2 linked regions of the Homo sapiens genome follow. The protein of the gene in region 1 purifies or fractionates together with the protein of each later gene. This does not show direct contact. Each region holds a gene or a part of one and is shown in the gene's direction. Other genes may lie near its edges.

Region 1 (4,698 bases):
TAAATTAATTGCAAGTAAGGTTTAAAAGGCTGAGTGTGACTACAAAGAAGTTTGGAATTTTCTAAGGTTAAAAAATATTCTCTTGTTCAGAATATTGGCTGGGTGCGGCAGATCACTTGAGGTCAGGAGTTTGAGACTAGCTTGGTGAAACTCCATCTCTACTAAAAATAAAAAATTAGCCCGGCATGGTGGTGCACACCTGTAATCCCAGCTACTTGGGAGGCTGAGGCAGGAGAATCGCTTGAACCCGGGAGGCAGAGGTTGCGGTGAGCTGAGATCGCGCCACTGCATTCCAGCCTGGGCAGCAAGAGCGAAACTCCGTCTCAAAACAAACAAAATACTAATGGGGCTGAGTGCAGTGGCTCACACCTGTGACTCCAGCACTTTGGGAGGCCTAGGTGGGAAGATCACTAGAGCCTGGAGTTTGAGACCAGCCTCGACAACATAAGTGGGACCCCATCTTTACAAAAAATTTAAAAATTAGCCAGGCATGGTGGCACACATCTGTGGTCCCAGGTACTCGGGAGGATGAGGCAGGAGGATCACTTGAATCCAGGAGGTAGTGGCTGCAGTGAACCATGTTCATGCTACTACACTCCAGCCTGGGTGACAGAGTGAGATGCTGTCTCTTTTTAAAAAATTATATATATACACACGTGTACACGTATGCACACATATAATACATATTACAGTGAAGTACTTTTCAACTGTTCACACAGAGGATGGGGAGGCACGTGAGAGGGATGAAATCCGGCATGACAGGCGAAAAGAGAGACAGCATGACCGGAATCTTTCCAGGGCAGCTCCTGATAAGAGGTAGGTGTTATTTAAGATGTGTACCAATCATGGTGGCCGGGCGCAGTGGTTCACCCCTGTAATCCCAGCACTTTGGGAGGCCAATGCGGGCGGATCACGAGGTCAGGAGATCGAGACCATCCTGGCTAACACGATGAAACCCTGTGTCTACTAAAAGTACAAAAAATTAGCCGGGCATGGTCGTGGCAGGCGCCTGTAGTCCCAGCTACTTGGCAGGCTGAGGCAGGAGAATGGCGTGAACCCGGGAGGTGGAGCTTGCAGTGAGCCGAGATCACGCCACTGCATTCCAGCCTGGGCGACAGAGCGAGACTCCATCTCACAAAAAAAAAAAAAAAAAAAAAAGATATGTACCAATCATGAAGAGTGGCCTTTTTGTACCTTTTAGAGCAGAGTTTTAGTCCACTAAGATCAGTTTTGCTTCTCTCCCTTTCTTCTTTAGTTTGATAACTTAATAAATTAGCACTTAATTTTCTTGTACTTAACTACTTTGTCTTAGCTCTAGTTGACTGTCTTTGGAATTAATCTTCCATCACTTAAGTCAGAATTGAGAATGATGGGAATATAGAAAACGGAATCGAGATCAGATTTTTGAAAAGGATGTAGTAGTAAATTTGGACTGTTATAGTCCGTTCTTTTTCTACCTCAAATGGTGAGATAAATGGATTATGTGCCTCTTTAGACAGGAAATAAGCTTTCATGCTTTTATTGAGATCATTTTATATGCATAGTACTGCATCTAGTACAATTGAGGAGAAGAGCAGTTTTGAAAGAAGTAGAAAATCAGCTCATTTTTAGGAGTAGTTTAACTTACAGTTCAGAAAGACAGAGCTATCCATAAAATAATTTGAGAAAATTTGCAAAGCACTCTTAGTAAGTATAAACGTATAGAACAAACTAAATATATATATGAGGGCATAGAGTAAAGTAGGAATTGGGGAAGTTTATGGCTCACCAAAGGCTGAGGACTAAAAGTTCTGAAAAGTAGAGGGAACGCTGCAATACTAAGGTGGAATTCTGAGTGAGGGTTAAATGCAAATATAGAATATTTTCTTCCCAAATGAACAGTTTTCTGTGCTCTGATCATCCCATGAGCCTAATACATTTTTCAAGTCATATTTTAAACACAAAAAAGAGGCCGGGCACAGTGGCTGACACCTGTAATCCCAGCACTTTGGCAGGCCAAAGCACGCGAATCACTTGAGGTCAGGAGTTCAAGACCAGCCTGGCCAACATGGTGAAACCCCATCTCTACTAAAAATGCAAAAATTAGCTGGGTGTGGTGGCACATGCCGGTAGTCCCAGCTACTCGAGAGGCCGAAGTGGGAGAATCACTTGAACCCTGGAGGCGGAGGTTTCAGGGAGCCAAGATCGTGCCACTGCATTCCAGCCTGGGCGACAGAGTGAGACTCCGTGTCATAAAAAATAAAAAATAAAAAAATAAAAATAAATAAGCATGAAAAAGATTCCTGCTGGTATTAATTGGCATATTTCATCTCCCTGGATAAATGATGTCATGGAGAAGCAAAGACTCTTACTCTTGAGAGTTGAGGGTAAAGTACATGTAGAAGGAGGAGCAAAGTGTGAAAGTGTTTAATTAATGACAGTCTTGGTTAGTAATTCCTAAGTTGTAAAAGTTACAATGGCTCTGTGGATAAATTGGGCCCTCAAAACGAGTAAAGTGGCTATCAGAATTGACAACATAGAAAAGCTGTGAAATTGTAACTGGATGAAAATCAAACAGCCTATAGAAATCATTTTGTGACCTGAGTTTTTAGTAAAACAAGTAATGACAGTTACCATGGTTTCATTGGGATGTAGGTTGCATATATAATGCAACAGCCAGGAAACCAAATTAATCTGAATGTCAAAAATCATACTAATTCAGTCATTGACATGTTTTCCTCAAAATTCTAGTGGGATAAAATTACTAAATGTGGTTAGATAAAAGAGCTGTTTCTAGCTTATTTAAAATGTTTCGTGTGCTACATCTAAATTGTATCCACTTCCCCAACCCCCAAACCATCATATAATGATAGTAAATATAGACCATAGCAATTTTATATCTCAGCATGGTTGTAAGGTGATTGCTTATATTAAAGAATTCCATGTCAACGAATCTGTTAGATGTTCTTTTGAGCTAACAGGACGTCCTAATTGTAAAACTCTCCCTCTAATCTGAAATGCTTTATAAGGGCTGCCAGCTTGATTATGTATCATCAAGGAATATATGTTCACAAGATGTGAATGTGACATATTCACATCCTTTGTTTCTGAGATTGGTTGTATTTCTATTGAACATATTCAGCTTGTCTATAAAGAGTTTTCAGTTAGTGATGTCGTATTTCAAAATAGGTCGAAACTTCAGAGAAATGAAAATCGGGATATCAGTGAAGTTATTGCTCTCGGTGTTCCTAATCCTCGGACTTCCAATGAAGTTCAGTATGACCAAAGGCTCTTCAACCAATCCAAGGTACAAGTTTAGGAACAGCATATTGTGTGTGTTGATGTGAATACCTATCCTCAGGGAAACGAAAATTAACATACTTTACATTTGGATGTAAATGCCAGCATGATGACAAAAAAATTGGAAGTTGTATGTTGAAACTTGAGACAAGATGAAACAGTTCTGATTTTAACTTCTTATAGTGGGCTGAGATTTGAGACACTAGGAGAAGAAAGAAATTAGGTGATTAAAAACTTGGTGTTGTGGTATGTCAACCTTTTGTTTCTAAAATAGAACCAGGGAGGCCAGGCATGGTGGCTTTTGCCTGTAATCCCAACACATTTGGAGGCCGAAGCGGGCAGATCACCTGAGGTCAGGAGTTCACAACCAGCCTGGCCAACATGGTGAAACCCCATCTCTACTAAAAATACGAAAACTAGCCAGGTGTGGTGGTGCACGCCTGTAATCCCCACTACTTGGGAGGCTGAGGCACGAGAATTGCTTGGTGAGCCAAGATTGTGCCACTGCACTCTAGCCTGGGTGACTGAGACTCTATCTCAAAAAAATAAAAGAGTCAGTGTCCTACAAAAGTGCCTCTTGGGTTTTTTTGTTGTTGATTTTTGGATTTTTCTTTTAATGCTATAGAAATATATCAATTTGGGATTCTTTTAAAAATGAAGCTGTAAAACGGGATTAAAGTACTAGGCTGGCTGTCAGGAAATCTGATTTCTAGTACCAATTGCCATTAGCTAACTAGGACACTTTAAGCCTGGGAAAACACACGCGGGCGCATGCGCACACACAAGAATACAGAAGTGTAAGTTCTACTGGAAAGTAGAGTGGGAAACTTAATTATGACTTGGAGGTTTTAAGTAAGCTCTTCTAAGTGATAATTTATTAGATGCATTTTATATTCTTGGCATTGTTCTAAGTCTTGTTATTATCTCAATTCTTACAAAAATCCTATGAAATAATACTATTATCTCTTATGTTATAGATGAGGAAATTGAAACACAGGTTTAGCTTGTGACTGATGGAATTAAGATTCAAACTGGGTGTCTTGATTTCAAAGTTTTTTTTGTTTGTTTTTGTTTTCTGATATGGAGTCCCACTCTGTCGCCCAGGCTGGAGTGCAGTGGTGCCATCTCGGCTCACTGCAACCTCCACCTCCCAGGTTCAAGGGATTCTCCTGCCTCAGCCTCCTGAGTAGCTGGGATTATCACAGGGCATGTGCCACCATGCCAGGCTAATTTTTGTATCCTTAGTAGAGACAGGGTTTCATCACGTTGGGTCAAGCGGGTCTTGAACTCCTGACCTCGTGATCCTCCTGCCTTGGCCTCCCAAAGTGCTGGGATTACAGGCGTGAGCCACTGTGCCCAGCCAATTTCAAAGCTTTCTTAACCACTATACAATGGCAACTTACCAGCTGAGCAAAGGGA
Region 2 (5,865 bases), on another chromosome or scaffold:
CCTGGAAGAACAACAAGTTCTCCAACCCATGGTGCTATGAGAACTTTATCCAGGCTCGTTCCCTGCGCCGGGCCCAGGACATTCGCAAGCAGATGTTAGGCATAATGGACAGGTAAGCTGGAATCTGATGACTCTGCATGTTTGAGTTGAACCACCTTGAGTATCATGTCTTTTCATCTCTGTGTGTACCTATAAAGCTATAGGCACCTTTTCTCTTGCTCCTCACATAACCCTTTTCCTCCAGCTTTTCCATCTTTGTTATATTCCTTCTCCCCAAGTAAGGGTATGCCTGAGAATTACCTCAGATACCTAAGAGGAAGATTATCTGTTAGTTGTTGAAAAAAATGCTCTTTGTTTGCAACCCTCTGGAACATTATTACTGTGGAATTGAATACCTGTCTAAACAAAGTGTCTGTCTCTGAGTGCCTCCGTCTGCCCACTGTGTAGAGCTGCCTCTGTAGTACACTTAGGGCTGGAAGGAAGGTCCTGGTGACTACTCTGGGCACCCCAAGATGGATGTGTTGGGCACTGTCATTGTGAAAATAGACCTGTGAAAGCTGAGTGGGCTCATATCTTTTGTCCTATCTTGATAGACACAAGCTGGATGTTGTTTCCTGTGGCAAGTCCACAGTCCGAGTGCAGAAGGCCATCTGCAGTGGGTTCTTCCGTAATGCTGCCAAGAAAGACCCGCAGGAGGGTTACCGGACACTGATCGACCAGCAGGTGGTCTATATCCATCCTTCCAGTGCCCTCTTCAACAGACAGCCAGAATGGTAGGTGGACATGTCCCAGGGTCTAGGGGCTTTTCTGGGCAGAGAAAAACCTGTAAATTTCCTGGTATTTTGTGATTGTGTCTTCACTACTCCCAGTATGTCCTAGTATAACACTGCTTGCCTTTCTAGAGCAGCAGAAACCTGAATTAGGCACAATGTATCAAACCCTATGAGAGAATTAAAATCATAGGGGTGAGACCTAGTTGAAAAAAAAAATTGTGGTTTAAAAAACTACGTAGTGGCCAGGCACAGTGGCTCATGCCTGTAATCCCAGCACTTTGGGAGGCTGAGGTGGGCAGATCAGCCGAGGTCGGGAGTTCAAGACCAGCCTGACCAACATGGAGAAACCCTGTCTCTACTAAAAATACAAAATTAGCCAGGTATGGTGGCGCATGCCTGTAATCCCAGCTACTTGGGAGGCTGAGACAGGACAATCGCTTGAACCCAGGAGGTGGAGGTTGCAGTGAGCCGAAATCACCCATTGCACTCCAGCCTGGGCAACAAGAGCGAAACTCCATCTCAAAAAAAAAAAAAAAAAAAAACCAACTACCTAGGGGCTAGGCATGGTGGCTCACGTCTGTAATCCCAGCACTTTGGGAGGCCGAGGCAGGTGGATCACCAGAGGTCAGGAATTCCAGGCCAACCTGACCAACATAGTGAAACCATGTCTCTACTAAAAATACAAAGTTAGCCAGGCGTGGTGGCAGGCACCTGTAATCCCAGCTACTTGGGAGGCTGAGACATGAGAATAGCTTGAACCCGGGAGGCAGAGGTTGCAGTGAGCTGAGATTGTGCCATTGTACTCCAGCCTGGGAGACAGAGTGAGACTCCGTCCCAAAAAAAAAAAAAAAAAGAAAGAAAAAAACAACTACCTAGTGATGTAGTTTAAAAAAAAAAACTTGTTTTAAAGTAGCATTTTTAAAAAATTGGACTCTATCTAGAACCCTAATATAAAACTGATTTAAAACCACCATGTTATCACAGTAGAAGGGTTAGAAATGTGGCTCCTTGCATGTTTGGCCTTCTCCATCCCTTGTGGCAGTGTGAGGCCCCTCTTCAGAGCCCTAGAATTCTGTGGAAACATTCTAATAAACATCCTCACATTTTATAGAGCAAGAAACAGATTAGAGAAGGGATGTGATTGGCTCCATGTCACTTAACTAGTTAGAGCCAGAGCCAGGACTAGAATACATTCTCCTGAGACCTTTCTTGTGGTTAGAGGTGTGCGGGTGCTTCAGTATTGGGGTGTGGCTGTCATAAACAGACTGCAGTCTTATAGGTGTCAGGCAGGAGAGGTAATAGTATAAAATGTAAGCTCAGCTGAGGCCTACTAGGGACCAGGTTGACTGTAGAGTGGGGCCTATATCCAGAGGCTTGAGTACTATCTCTGTCCCCCCTCAGGGTGGTGTACCATGAGCTGGTGCTCACCACCAAGGAATACATGCGTGAAGTTACCACCATCGACCCTCGGTGGCTTGTGGAGTTTGCCCCAGCCTTCTTCAAGGTCTCAGACCCAACTAAGCTAAGCAAACAGAAGAAGCAACAGCGTCTTGAACCCTTGTACAACCGCTATGAGGAACCCAATGCCTGGAGAATATCTCGAGCTTTCCGACGGCGCTGAAAGGCAAGATTGTTCCTTTGCCTCTCCAGCAGCAGTAGCCAGGGCTTGGACTTATCGATGACAGGCTGGTCCTGAGGATACAGCTGTCCCGTGACTGACTGTCTTAACTGAGCATTTTCTCAACTCGACTCTCATTTCTTCCCTGCTGGTAAAATAGAAACAGGGATTTAAACCTGGCTTTGGCAAGAGCCTGCAGCCTCCATCACCCCAAGTCCTTGGGCCCAGTTGGGAGCTCATATCTAACACAGAGACACATTGCATCAACTTCAAGAAAGGGACAATTTGTGCAGCTCCAGGATGGGAAGGTGGAGTGGGTGAGCATCTTGTGCAGGGACATGGTGAGTGCCCTGATGCCCCAGCTAGCAGGAGCTACTGTGCTCATCTAAAGTGTTTGCCCCACTTCCCACCCCGTCTCCAGCCCCTGTACTTTGGCTTGACCTCGTGGAAATATTTATTTTCTTAAGGAAACAAAAATGGTTTTCTGTGACTGTTTTCTTTTAGCCGAAAGGTTAGGATATTGGCCTGGGCTCAGGGTGAGGGAGATTTAGTATCTGTGCTCTGGCACACATGATGAGAATCCCCTGAATCCCCTGAAACCAGAACGCAGGGCCTCTTTGCGCTCGGAAACGACGTACAACCCAGACTTCCAGCCTTGTCTTTCAGCATCAGCACTAGCCGGGCCGTGCTGGGGGATCACCCGATGATCAACCATGTCCTCTCCACAGAGCACTTCAGTCTGGAGGCCTGAGTGGCTACAGATGGCACATATTAAATACAGAAGGTTTCCCCTTGCTCCCTCCACCTCCCACATTCGCAATGTGCAGCATGTCCCATTTCCTTTTGAAACATACTAAGTAACAACACAGCTTTTATTTTATTTTGTTTTTATTTTTTTCCCCTGAGGTCCTGGATGGACTTTAACAAAGGGATTTTATGGTCAAAACCTCCCTTTCCCCACTCCAAACAGAAAACAAACATAACACCTCTCCTCTCAGCTGGTTTGTGCTGCCAGTATCTGTGCTGCAGGGCTTGTTCTTAGTGGTTTTTTCCTAGCACTTGCTTGGAGAATAGCCACCTCCTTGTGCCCTCCTCACAGCTCCTGAGGAGGGTTTTTTTTTTTTCTTCCCATAGAGATGGGTTCCCACTGTGCTGCCCAGGCTGCTCTCCAATCCCTGGCGTCAAGCAATCCTCCTGCCTCTGCCTCCCAAAGCGCTGGGATTACAGTTGAGAGCCACTGTCCTCTGCACTGAGGAGGCTCCTTACCTGGCGGAACATCAGGCAGGTCTTGCCAGGCCAGGTTTCGGAACTTACGGAAAGCTGGTCTGGATGTAGTGCTTGTAGAGAAGCTTCTGAGAGATTGGGCACATCCTGTTACGTTGCTGCTTCTCCTGTCCTTATGTTATTAGTAAGTTCTGAAGTGATGTAAATGCTAGAACTACTGTAGAACTGTATGCCAGACACTAAGAGAGACTATGTAACATTCCAGGATATAAAGGAATGTATGTTGTCACTGGGCAGCAAACCACACCCTAAAGACAATTCAGAAAGAGTCCGAGGGAGAGGAATATAGGCCAGGCAATCTGCTGGCTGCAGATCCCTGCCCCTTCATTAAGCTGAGTGCCTCCTGATTCTGTCTGAGTATTCGCCTTTGTAAGCCCAGGCCAGTAATCAAGGGGCAGGGCATTGTTGTGTGTTAACCTTGAAGGCCTTCTGGGGAGAGACAGTACAGGGACCTCAAATGAAACCAAAGGGGAAACGGGGACTGGGCACCCACCTCCCCAATCTCGTTTTGTTTTTGTTTTTGTTAAGACAGGATCTTGCCATCTTGCCTAGGCTGGCATCAAACTCCTGAGCTCAAGTGATCTTCCTGCCTCAGCCTCCTGAGTAGCTGGGACTACAGGTGCATGCCACCACACCTGGCTCCCAGTCCTAATTCCAGCCTAAATTTTCCCCATTCAGAAACACTCCTGGATATAGTGGCCCAGCCTGTCCTGACTGAGTGCCCAGCACTGACAATGTTGACACCTGGGGAGGGAGGGTTGGGTTTCAAGCTGAGGTTGAAAAGGGATGTTGAATGGGCTAAGGATAAGAGACAGCAGGGTTCGTTATCTTTTCTGGCTCAGGTGGAGGAAAAAGAAGGATCCCCATTCTGTGGGTGTTCCTTGACCATCTCTCTACGCTAGAGCTGAGGTCACTTCTCTGCTATGACAACATAGCTGGGTTCTGACCTTTTGACCATCAGGAAAGCAATGTCAGCAGCTGAGCTGAGCCTGCTCTGAGGGAGAAGGGGGGGGTCCTGTCCAGATGCAGAAGGGGAGCTTGCCTGCTGCTCTCACACAATGGAGCCCTTGTTTCTCTTCCTTGAACCAGTATTTCCCAAGATTGAGTGACAGCCCAGGAGAGGATGTGGGTCTCATGCAGAGAGCTGGGATCTTCTTGGCCATTAAAGTATATTGTTCACCCCCACCCCGCGAGAACCAAGCTCAGGAGTTGCCTGCCTCTGCACACATGCTGAGTGTGCTGTTTGTGTATATGGCAGGACCGTCCCTATGGGGCATGTGTGAGCTCCGCAGCTGGGTCAGGCTCCTCGGTCCAGGTTTACTTCATCCCGCCTGGACGTGATTTGGCTTTGACTGTCTCTCCTGCAGCCCAAAGCACTTCCTCCCTGTGGTTGCTGTAGCTGTCTCATTGGAGCAGTGCCTCTCCAAGTTTGAGGATTTGAACAAAGAACTGGGACTGGTGACTTGTTAATGAACAGTTCAGAGGGCAGAGGGCCATCATCTCAGCTTGTGGAGACCTTTCTTTCCCTGGATGCTGCTTCTCAGCTAACTCCCTCTCTCTTCGTGTGTGTACTCGGCCTTCAGGGTTTCCACCGATTTTTACACCTTCTTCCCACCACGATAGCTTGGCTTTAATGTGGAATTAAATTATATATTTTTAAAACCTGTTTTTAAAATTTTGTTTCTTGCACTAAATTATGTCAGTACATTGATATTTTGTGTTTCTAGGAAGAAGTAATGTTGCCTTTTATTTGTGGGTAGTAGTCGAGGGGCATCCCTTCCTGCAAGGGATGGTCTCAGGTTGGTGCTGGGCCAACCTGAGACATGAACAGAGTTGGGCTGGCCCAACCTCAGCACAGCTGCAGTTTCTATTTAACAGGAGAGCACCGGTTTTTACCTGAGCATGTCTCCTGGGCAGCGGTTTACATAGCAGCTGGCTCTAGAACCACCCATTCTGCCCCTCCCACCTGTTGTCACATCTCAGTCATACGTCCTCCATAGGTGTCACCATGTTGTCCACTTTGCCATTTCTACCTACCCCCAAAAAACTCAGCCTCAGGACTCTGATCTCTCCCAAATTTGGGCAAGGAGAATCTAGGTGTTTCCCACTCCCCGGAAGATCTAATCTCCACTGGCCAGAATCCAGGGCCTGCTCTAGCCTCTCTCTGTACCATCTGGCCTGGGAGCCTTT

The links. Proteins that work in one complex are often made in the same cells at the same time.
Region 2: the proteins of SNW1 (region 1) and DHX8 purify together in Homo sapiens (affinity purification with mass spectrometry; 4 studies listed by BioGRID and IntAct, with this or other methods). This does not show direct contact.

What each region holds. Positions count from the first base shown.
Region 1 is NC_000014.9:77,719,299-77,723,996, reverse strand, and holds part of SNW1 (SNW domain-containing protein 1), read left to right. Parts: intron 1-719; coding exon 720-816; intron 817-3,168; coding exon 3,169-3,286; intron 3,287-4,698. UniProt on the Homo sapiens protein: Involved in pre-mRNA splicing as component of the spliceosome. As a component of the minor spliceosome, involved in the splicing of U12-type introns in pre-mRNAs.
Region 2 is NC_000017.11:43,521,454-43,527,318, forward strand, and holds the end of DHX8 (ATP-dependent RNA helicase DHX8), read left to right. Parts: coding exon 1-112; intron 113-593; coding exon 594-773; intron 774-2,174; coding exon 2,175-2,394; 3' UTR 2,395-4,217; downstream 4,218-5,865.